Homo sapiens: one gene and its partner. The protein of the gene in region 1 purifies or fractionates together with the protein of each later gene. This does not show direct contact. Each region holds a gene or a part of one and is shown in the gene's direction. Other genes may lie near its edges.

The links.
Region 2: the proteins of PTX4 (region 1) and NPTXR purify together in Homo sapiens (affinity purification with mass spectrometry; one large-scale study listed by BioGRID and IntAct). This does not show direct contact.

Annotation. Positions count from the first base shown.
Region 1 is NC_000016.10:1,486,098-1,490,594, reverse strand, and holds the start of PTX4 (pentraxin-4 isoform 1 precursor), read left to right. Parts: upstream 1-1,650; 5' UTR 1,651-1,685; coding exon 1,686-1,826; intron 1,827-2,127; coding exon of another isoform or gene 2,128-2,253; intron 2,254-2,624; coding exon 2,625-3,279; intron 3,280-4,015; coding exon 4,016-4,497.
Region 2 is NC_000022.11:38,823,371-38,827,175, reverse strand, and holds part of NPTXR (neuronal pentraxin receptor precursor), read left to right. Parts: intron 1-428; coding exon 429-676; intron 677-3,805. UniProt on the Homo sapiens protein: May be involved in mediating uptake of synaptic material during synapse remodeling or in mediating the synaptic clustering of AMPA glutamate receptors at a subset of excitatory synapses.

The DNA of each region.
Region 1 (4,497 bases):
TCTGCATCTTCTCCATGTCCATGGTGTTCTGACGCTTGACAAGGGGAGCCTGGGGGCCACCGATGGTTTCCTGGCCTGGCACCCTCTTGGCTCATGCCACCTTGGGAATGATGGATGCCCCCAGTGGGACAACTTTGTGGATGATCTTATTCCCATGAGCTGGGCGGCTTGAAACAACAGAAATGAGTCCTATCACAGTTCTGGGGGCTGGAAGTCTTGAAGTGAAGGTGCACACTCCCTCGAAGGCTCTGGGCTGGGGGTTCCCACTTTACCTCTTCCAGCTTCTGGGGCCTCTGGGGGTTCCTCGTGGCAGCGTCACCCCAGTCTCTGCCCCATCTTCACAGGCCGTGTCCTCTGTGCCTCCTCCTCTGTCTCTTGTACCCCTGTCATTGGCTTTAGGGCCACCTGGATAATCCAGGATGGTCTCATCTCAAAATCCTTCATGACATCCGCAGAGACCTTTTCCACATAAGGCCCTGCCTGGGGCTTATGTGTGTTTTTAGGAGGGTCTCATTCAAGCCAGTACACAACCTGTAACCAAAAATACCAGCCTGGCCCACATGGGGCAACCCCGTCTCTACTACAAATACAAAAATTGGCCGGGCGCGGTGGCTCATGCCTGTAATCCCAGCATTTCGGGAGGCTACAGCGGGTGGATCACCTGAGGTCGGGAGTTTGAGACCAGCCTGGCCCACATGGTGAAACCCCGTCTCTACTAAAAATACAAAAATTAGCCGGATGTGGGGGCACATACCTGTAATCCCAGCTACTTGGGAGGCTGAGACAGGAGAATCCGTTAAACCCAGGAGGCGGAGCTTGTGGTGAGCGGAGATCGCACCACTGCACTCCAGCCTGGGTGACAGAGCAAGACTCCGTCAAAAAAATTAATTAATTGGCCAGGCGCAGTGGCTCATGCCTGTAATCCGAACACTTAGGGAGGCTGAGGCAGGCAAATCATGAGGTCAGAAGTTTGAGACCAGCCTGACCAACATAGTGAAACCCCATCTCTACTAAAAATACTAAAATTAGCCGGGCATGGTAAAGCACGCCTGTAATCCCAGCTCCTCAGGAGGCAGGAGGCTGAGGAAGGAGAATCGCTTGAGCCGGGGAGGCAGAGGTTGCAGTGAGCTGAGATTGCGCCATTGCACTCTAGCCTAGGCAACAGAACGAGACTCCATCTCAAATAATAATAATAATTAATTAATTAAGGTGGCTCCCAGTCACATTTCCATTGCTTTACTGAGAGAGACGGGGCCTCCCAGGATGCAGCCGTGCACGGCCTGGGTGATGGGTGCCTGTGCAGACCTGGCTCTGTTGACTCCCCAGCCCCCGTCGGGTTCCCTGTCTTGCTTCGACTTCTCGGGAGCACAAGTCCATGTGCTCCTGTTAAAGCCATCGCCTCCTGCCCGCGGGCTTGCACCCAGCTGAATGATTCTTCAAAGAAACTGTTTGCATCTGTTTTAAGCTTGTCTCCTTAGGAACCTGCAAGTCTCAGAGCCCACTGGCTTGAAGGCAGATGCCTTTCATGGAGGCGGCAGGAAGAACCTGACATCCAGCCAGGGCCAAAGAAGGAAAACCACTCAACAGGAGAGCTGGGGGGACGAGACACAAGACAGACCCACGGAGCCACCTTCACCCTCTCCTGCGGCTGGAGGGAGACTGCTGGGGCCTTGCCGTCTCTCCGGATGGGTTGCTCGTGGAGGAAGACCTTGTCTTTCTTCCTTGTTTTTGTGCCTATATATCTACATGGGGCTTCATCGCAGGAAGCCGCCCCAGTGGGGCCCAGGAAACCGTTTTTCGAGAGGCTCCGTAGGCTGGAGGAACAGGCAAGTTATACCCCTGACATGGCGCAGTCGGGTTTTTAAATTGGCAGCAGATGGAAGACGGATGTTACAGAAGCAGATTGGTAAACATCAGGGCTTGGCGGACACGAACACCGCGTGTGACGCTCTTTCCATCCATGAAGATTATTTCACCTGCAGTTGGACACCAGGGAAGAGCTGAGCTGGGCTCCACTCACACAGGACACAAGCCTCATAACATGTGGGGGTCAGGTGGGGCCAGAGGCTAGAAGGGGGTCTGGAAGGGAGTCAGGGGAACTGGGGGCCATGGGGGCCGGGTAGTGTCATGGGGAGTGGAAACTGGGAGGTCACAGGTCCACCTTGTGGCAGTCGGTGTGAACGGCCTCCCGGACTCCCACGCGGGGTCCACGGACAGTTCCGGAGTGCTGTGGGCCTGTCGGGCCTGCGCTGGGTGCTTCCTGTTTGGGCCTCGTAAAGCACTCATGAGGCCACCCTGCCGTCCCCTGCTCACAGGCAGGAGCTGGAATCACGAGGGAAAGTGACTTGCCGGTGGTTATGGGGTGAGCGGTGGGGATCAGAGCCCCAGCTGTGGGCCTGGAGTCCACACCCCACGTGGTGCAGCTGCATGGCCTGGGGTCAGTCCCTGGCACCCACCACATCTCACGGCATCGCAGTGGGGATCAAATCGGTGGGCAGATAGCCAGTGCTGGCCGTGGCCCGGGCACGCGGCCGCTGCTCCCAACTTGAGAGGGCAAAGCCTTTCCCGTCCCGCCCAGCCGGCCCGGCCCGGCCCGCCCCATCATCACCGTGTCCTCCTTACAGTTCCGGAGATTCCAGGAGGTGACCTGGACACACCTGCAGAACATCGCCAGCAACTACAACGTGTCCTACAACGTTGACGTCCGGTTCCGGAGCCTGGCGGAAGAGAGCCAGGCTGTGGCTCAGGCAGTCAACCGGTCACAGGCCTCGGTGCAGGGGGAGCTGGCGCAGCTCAAGGCCTGGGTGAGGAAGCTGCAGCGCCGAGGCCGGAAAGTAGACACGCGGCTGCGGGCCTTGGACCTCACCCTGGGCGAGAGGAGCCAGCAGCGGGCCCGGGAAAGGAAGGCACACAAGGCCCAGAGGGACGCCCTGCAGGACTCACTGGCACGCCTGGAGGGCCTCGTCCACAGCCAGGGCGCCAGGCTGGCTGCTCTGGAGGGGCGGCTGCCCGTGGCCCACCCTGGCACTGCAGCCCTCGGGCCGGCCCTGGTCCCAACCCCAACCCAGCCTGAGGAGCTGGGCCCGACCTCCCTGAAGCTTCAGAGGGACAGGCAGGAGCTCCGAGCTGCCTCTGAGCACAGGGGCCCCCCACAGGACTCCTCGGCCCCTCTCCAAGGGAGGCGGGAGCCTCCAGCCTCAGGCAGCCATCGGGTACTCAGTGGGACTGCCCCAAAAGACCCTCGGCAGCAGGCATGGTCCCCCCAGGTGCCAGGAGAGAGTAAGTACCACAGGCTCCCAGCTCACGGCCAGGCTTCCCTCCAGCTCCTCCTTAGACCAGGCCCCCTGGAAAAGGCTTCTCAAAAGAGGTTCAGTTAGGGGCCGGGAGATGGGGAGAGGGTCTCGGATCATCGGGGGGGGTGGCCCACCGTCATCACAGAGGCTTTCTAAGGGGAGGCAGGAGGAACACAGTCAGAGGAGGGCGTGAGGGCAGAAGCAGAGGTGGCGGGATGCACAGACGAGGAGGCCCCACGCCGAAGGGTGCAGGCGCCTCTGGAAGCTGGAAAGGGCGGGAGATGGTTTCTCCTGGAGCCTCCAGAGGAACCAGCCCTGTCCACACCTGATTTGAGCCCTGGGAGACCGTGTTGGCCTTGTGACCGCCAGAAATGTGAAACACTAAACCTGCGCTGTTGTGAGTCATGAAATTTGCAGAGACTCCCTGGCAGTGAGGGGCGCTGGCTCAGCTGGGTGGGCCGACAGCTAGGGCTCCTAGCAGGACCCCGCCACTCCCGAGTACGGCCCTCATGTTCAGTCTTCCCGCCTGTGGAACTGGGGTGATCCCATCAAGAGAGTGAAGGAGACGCTGCAGGGGAGCCATCGGCAGGGCCAGCGCAGAGTCAGTGCTCCGTGAAGGGTGGCAGCCGGGAGTGGGAGGCCAGGCACCCACAGCACGTGTGCTTCTGGATGCTTCTGCTCGGCCTCCTGCAAGGGGTTGACCCTCCCTCCTCTGTTTCTAGTTTGCGGCGTGGGCCCCACCCTCGTTTTCCCAAACGCCTCCACCAGGAACGTGGTCTTCCTCAGCCCTGGTTTCGTCACTGCCCTGCGAGCCCTGTCCTTCTGCAGCTGGGTCCGCACGGCCTCCGGCCGCCTGGGCACCCTCCTGTCCTACGCCACCGAGGACAATGACAACAAGCTGGTGCTGCACGGCCGAGACTCCCTGCTGCCCGGATCCATCCACTTCGTGATCGGGGACCCGGCCTTCAGGGAGCTGCCCTTGCAGCTGCTGCTGGACGGCCAGTGGCACCACATCTGTGTCATCTGGACGTCCACCCAGGGCAGGTACTGGCTCCACGTGGATCGCAGGCTGGTGGCCACCGGCTCCCGCTTCAGGGAGGGCTATGAGATCCCCCCCGGAGGGTCCCTCGTGCTGGGCCAGGAACAAGACAGCGTGGGGGGCGGATTCGACAGCTCCGAGGCCTTCGTGGGGAGCATGTCTGGC
Region 2 (3,805 bases), on another chromosome or scaffold:
CAGTGGTGAGGAGCAAATTTCAGAATGGAGGGGCCATCGCAGGGGCACAGCTGCAGGGGAGGGACAGGTCTGGTGGCTCAGGGCCAGCATCCTAGGTGGAGCACAGGAACAGGAGAAGCAACCTCCAGCCCTCCTCAGCCCTGCCTCTGGCCTGTCTACCCCGGGTCTCCCAACAAGTTTAATTTGTTGACGGTCACGTGGCTGGGAAGTGGGGGAGACGAGATTTGGTCTCAGGACATCTAAGGTCCAGAGCCCCTGCACTTTAATCACACCCCTCAACACAGAGGTGGAGCAGAGAGAGCCCTGAAGGCACTGGGCATGCAGCAGGTGCCTGGGAGCTGTTAGCCATCTTTCTGAAGTGTGCCCTGTCCACCCCACCCTTTTCGGTGTCCACCGACCTCCACCATGTCTGCCTTGCCCACCCTCAGGGTCCTCAGCCTACAGTCCTCCAGATGCCTTCAAGATCAGCATCCCCATCCGTAACAACTACATGTACGCCCGCGTGCGGAAGGCTCTGCCCGAGCTCTACGCATTCACCGCCTGCATGTGGCTGCGGTCCAGGTCCAGCGGCACCGGCCAGGGCACCCCCTTCTCCTACTCAGTGCCCGGGCAGGCCAACGAGATTGTACTGCTAGAGGCGGGCCATGAGCCCATGGAGCTGCTGATCAACGACAAGGTAGGCAGGGCTGGCAGGGAGGGCTGGCTGGGGGAGGGCCACCCTTCCAGAAGCACCCACTCCACACTGGGCTCTTTCATTCTCCTGCTCATTCTCCTGCTCTGCATATTCAGCACACATTAAGTACCTACCGTGTGCTAGGCTGGGCTCTGGGAATATAAAGACAAGCCAGACATGGAGCTGCCGGAAGAGAGGCTGTGTCCAATAGAGGCTCTAAGTGTTGTTCCATTTTACAGAGGAGGCAAGTGAAGCTCTTGGGGATCCAGTGACTTCCCCAGTGACCCAGCTATGGGACAGGGCTGAGGTGTCTGCCCCCAGGGCCCTGCTCATCATCCTGGACTTAAAGAGAAGGGAGGTGGCCGGGCGCACTGGCTCATGCCTGTAATCCCAGCACTTTGGGAGGCCGAGGCGGGCGGATCACGAGGTCAGGAGATTGAGACCATCCTGGCTAACATGGTGAAACCCCATCTCTACTAAAAATACAAAAAAATTAGCCGGGTGTGGTGGTGGGCACCTGTAGTCCCAGCTACTCGGGAGGCTGAGGCAGGAGAATGGCCAGAACCCGAGAGGCAGAGCTTGCAGTGAGCTAAGATCGCACCACTGCACTCCAGCCTGGGCGACAGAGGAAGACTCTGTGTCAAAAAAAAAAAAAAAAAAAAGAGAGAGAGAGAAGGGAGGTGCACAGACCTACCTGGGGATGGAGGGAGGAAGGGAGTGCTTGTGGCCTCCTCGTTCCTTCTACTTCCCTGGAGCCAGCCCCTCGGGCCCTCCCCGCTATGGAGAGTAGAAAGGTGTTGTGCTCAGGCTCTGGGACCCAAATGCTGGTTTGAGTCTTGGTTCTGCATCTTCACCATTGTGTGACCTCAGACTAGTCTTCTACTTGCCCTGTGCCTCAGTTTGCTTATCTCTAAAGCAGGAATGATAAGAACTCTTGTCTCTTAGGGTTGTAGTGAGAAGTGGCTTAAATGCATGTAGAGGGCTTTGAGCAGATCCTAGCGTTTAGCAGACATCAATAACTGTGAGCTATTTTTATTATACTGGGCACTGTGCTAATAAGCAGTTTACTCACATTATTACCCTTGACCTTCCCAACAGCACTGGGAAGTAGGTACCCTCATTATCCCCATTTTGCAGATGGAGAAACTGAGGCTCAGAGAGGGGAAGTAATGCACCCTGGCCACACAGCTGCTGGGGTGTGATGTGATTCAGGGTCTTGGGCTCCGGAAACCACCTTTTAACCCCTCCCCTGTTCTGCCCTTGGGCCACCCATCTTCCTCATGCCCAGGCCTCCCTCCCCGATGCCCCTCCTTCAGCCTGGCTGGAAGGCAGGACAAGGACAAGGCAGGGAGAATGATGTGGCAGGAGCATGGTAATTGAGGGGAGAGGAAGGGGAGCATCTCATCACTGTCATCCACTCCTAAAGCTCCTCCCCAACCTGCCACATTGTTTTGGGCCTTGCAGGCATGGTGGTCTATTGAGACCCCCCTGGAAATGCAGATACCACATATCGTACCCACCTGTGACCAGCCCACAACACATAAAGCCACTAGGAGTGATTGATACCCATCAGACCCAGCTTAGCAGAAGGTGCATTTCATGGCATTCTGGAGGGGGAGGAGGAGGAGGGAGGAGATGAGTCCAGGGACCAGTGACTTTCCCTTGTGGCCCAATAAACCCTACGACCACCGGGGTGGCTGGACTACATCTAGATCCTGCTGCCTTGTGCCCTTCATCACCCCCTGGCTGCCGTCCTTGGCCTGGCCCAAGTTCAGCACTCAGTTCTCATTAGAAGGAATTCAGCACCCTGGACAGGGCATTGGGCAGCCCTGTTCTGGGACGCTCTAGAGTCCTTTTGAGAGCCAGCCTAACAGACTGCTCACTGTTCCCTTTTTATTCCAGCCTCTAAGCCTTTACTCCTTCTGTGCCCACCACTTGTTTTGCCTAGCAATGGAATGGTGGATCCATTGTCCTTCCAGACGGGTTTTGACGTGGCTTCTGTTCCCATATCCCCTCTACCTCTGGGCCTCGCAGCCTCTGTACCTCCCATATGCCCTCCGTTATTTTGTCTTATAGCATTGCCCCAAAGTCCTTCCCCTCCTGCAGACTCAGCTCATTTAAGGCGTGGACCAGCTCCACATCCCCAGGATCCACAACAAGGCCAGGCACCACGTAGGCCTCAGAGAATGTTACATTAAATTGTGATCTCAGGCTGGGTAAGGTGGCTCTTGCCTGTAATCCCAGCACTCTGAGAGGCTGAGGTGGGTGGATCATCTGAGGTCAGGAGTTCAAGACCAGGCTGGCCAATATGGTGAAATCCCGCCGTTTCTACTAAAAATACAAAAAAAAAAAAAAAAAAATAGCTGGGCATGGTGGTGCACGCCTGTAATCCCAGCTACTTGGGAGGCTGAGGGAGGAGAATTGCTTGAACCAGGAGATGGAGGCTGTGGTGAGCTGAGATCACACCACTGCACTCTATCCTGGGCAACATAGTGAAATTCCATCTCAAAAAAAAAAATGTGACCTCAGGAAACTTACCAGATGAGGAAGCCCTTTGGGAGCACCAAATCCACAGACAGCAAGCACCTTTCATCTTACAGGCCAGCTCTAACCCATCAGCAGTGGCTTTCCAGAGCACTGTGCTGAGGGATCTGAGCTAAATCGAGGCTCGTGATTGATTGGCTATGTCTGCCCTGGGTGGAGGAAGATTTGCCATCCCTTGCAGACTTGTCATCCCTTGTCTGACCTCACTTTACAGATAAGGAAACTGAGGCCCAGGGAGGAAGGAGCAGCCTCCCCAGATCACACAGGGGTTGGTGGCAGAGCCAGGGCCAGATGCTGGAGCCTGGCCTCTGAGTCCAAGGCTCATTCTATCCCTGCCAGTACTTCTTGAGCCCTAGCTGTGTGCTGAGTGCTGTGTGAGGTGTTCAGGGGAAGTTGGGATTATGAGACATCCCTCTCTCCCCAAGTGACCTTAATAGGCCTGTTGGAGAGTGAGTGAACTACCTTGTGACAACTGAAAACCAAAACCAGAGAGTCCCTTGTGATCTGGTTTGGTCTTTGAGGAAAGAGGAGACAGGAGTCAGGGAAAGACACTGGGCAGGAGGATGGAGAGGGTCAGGCCTGGGGTCG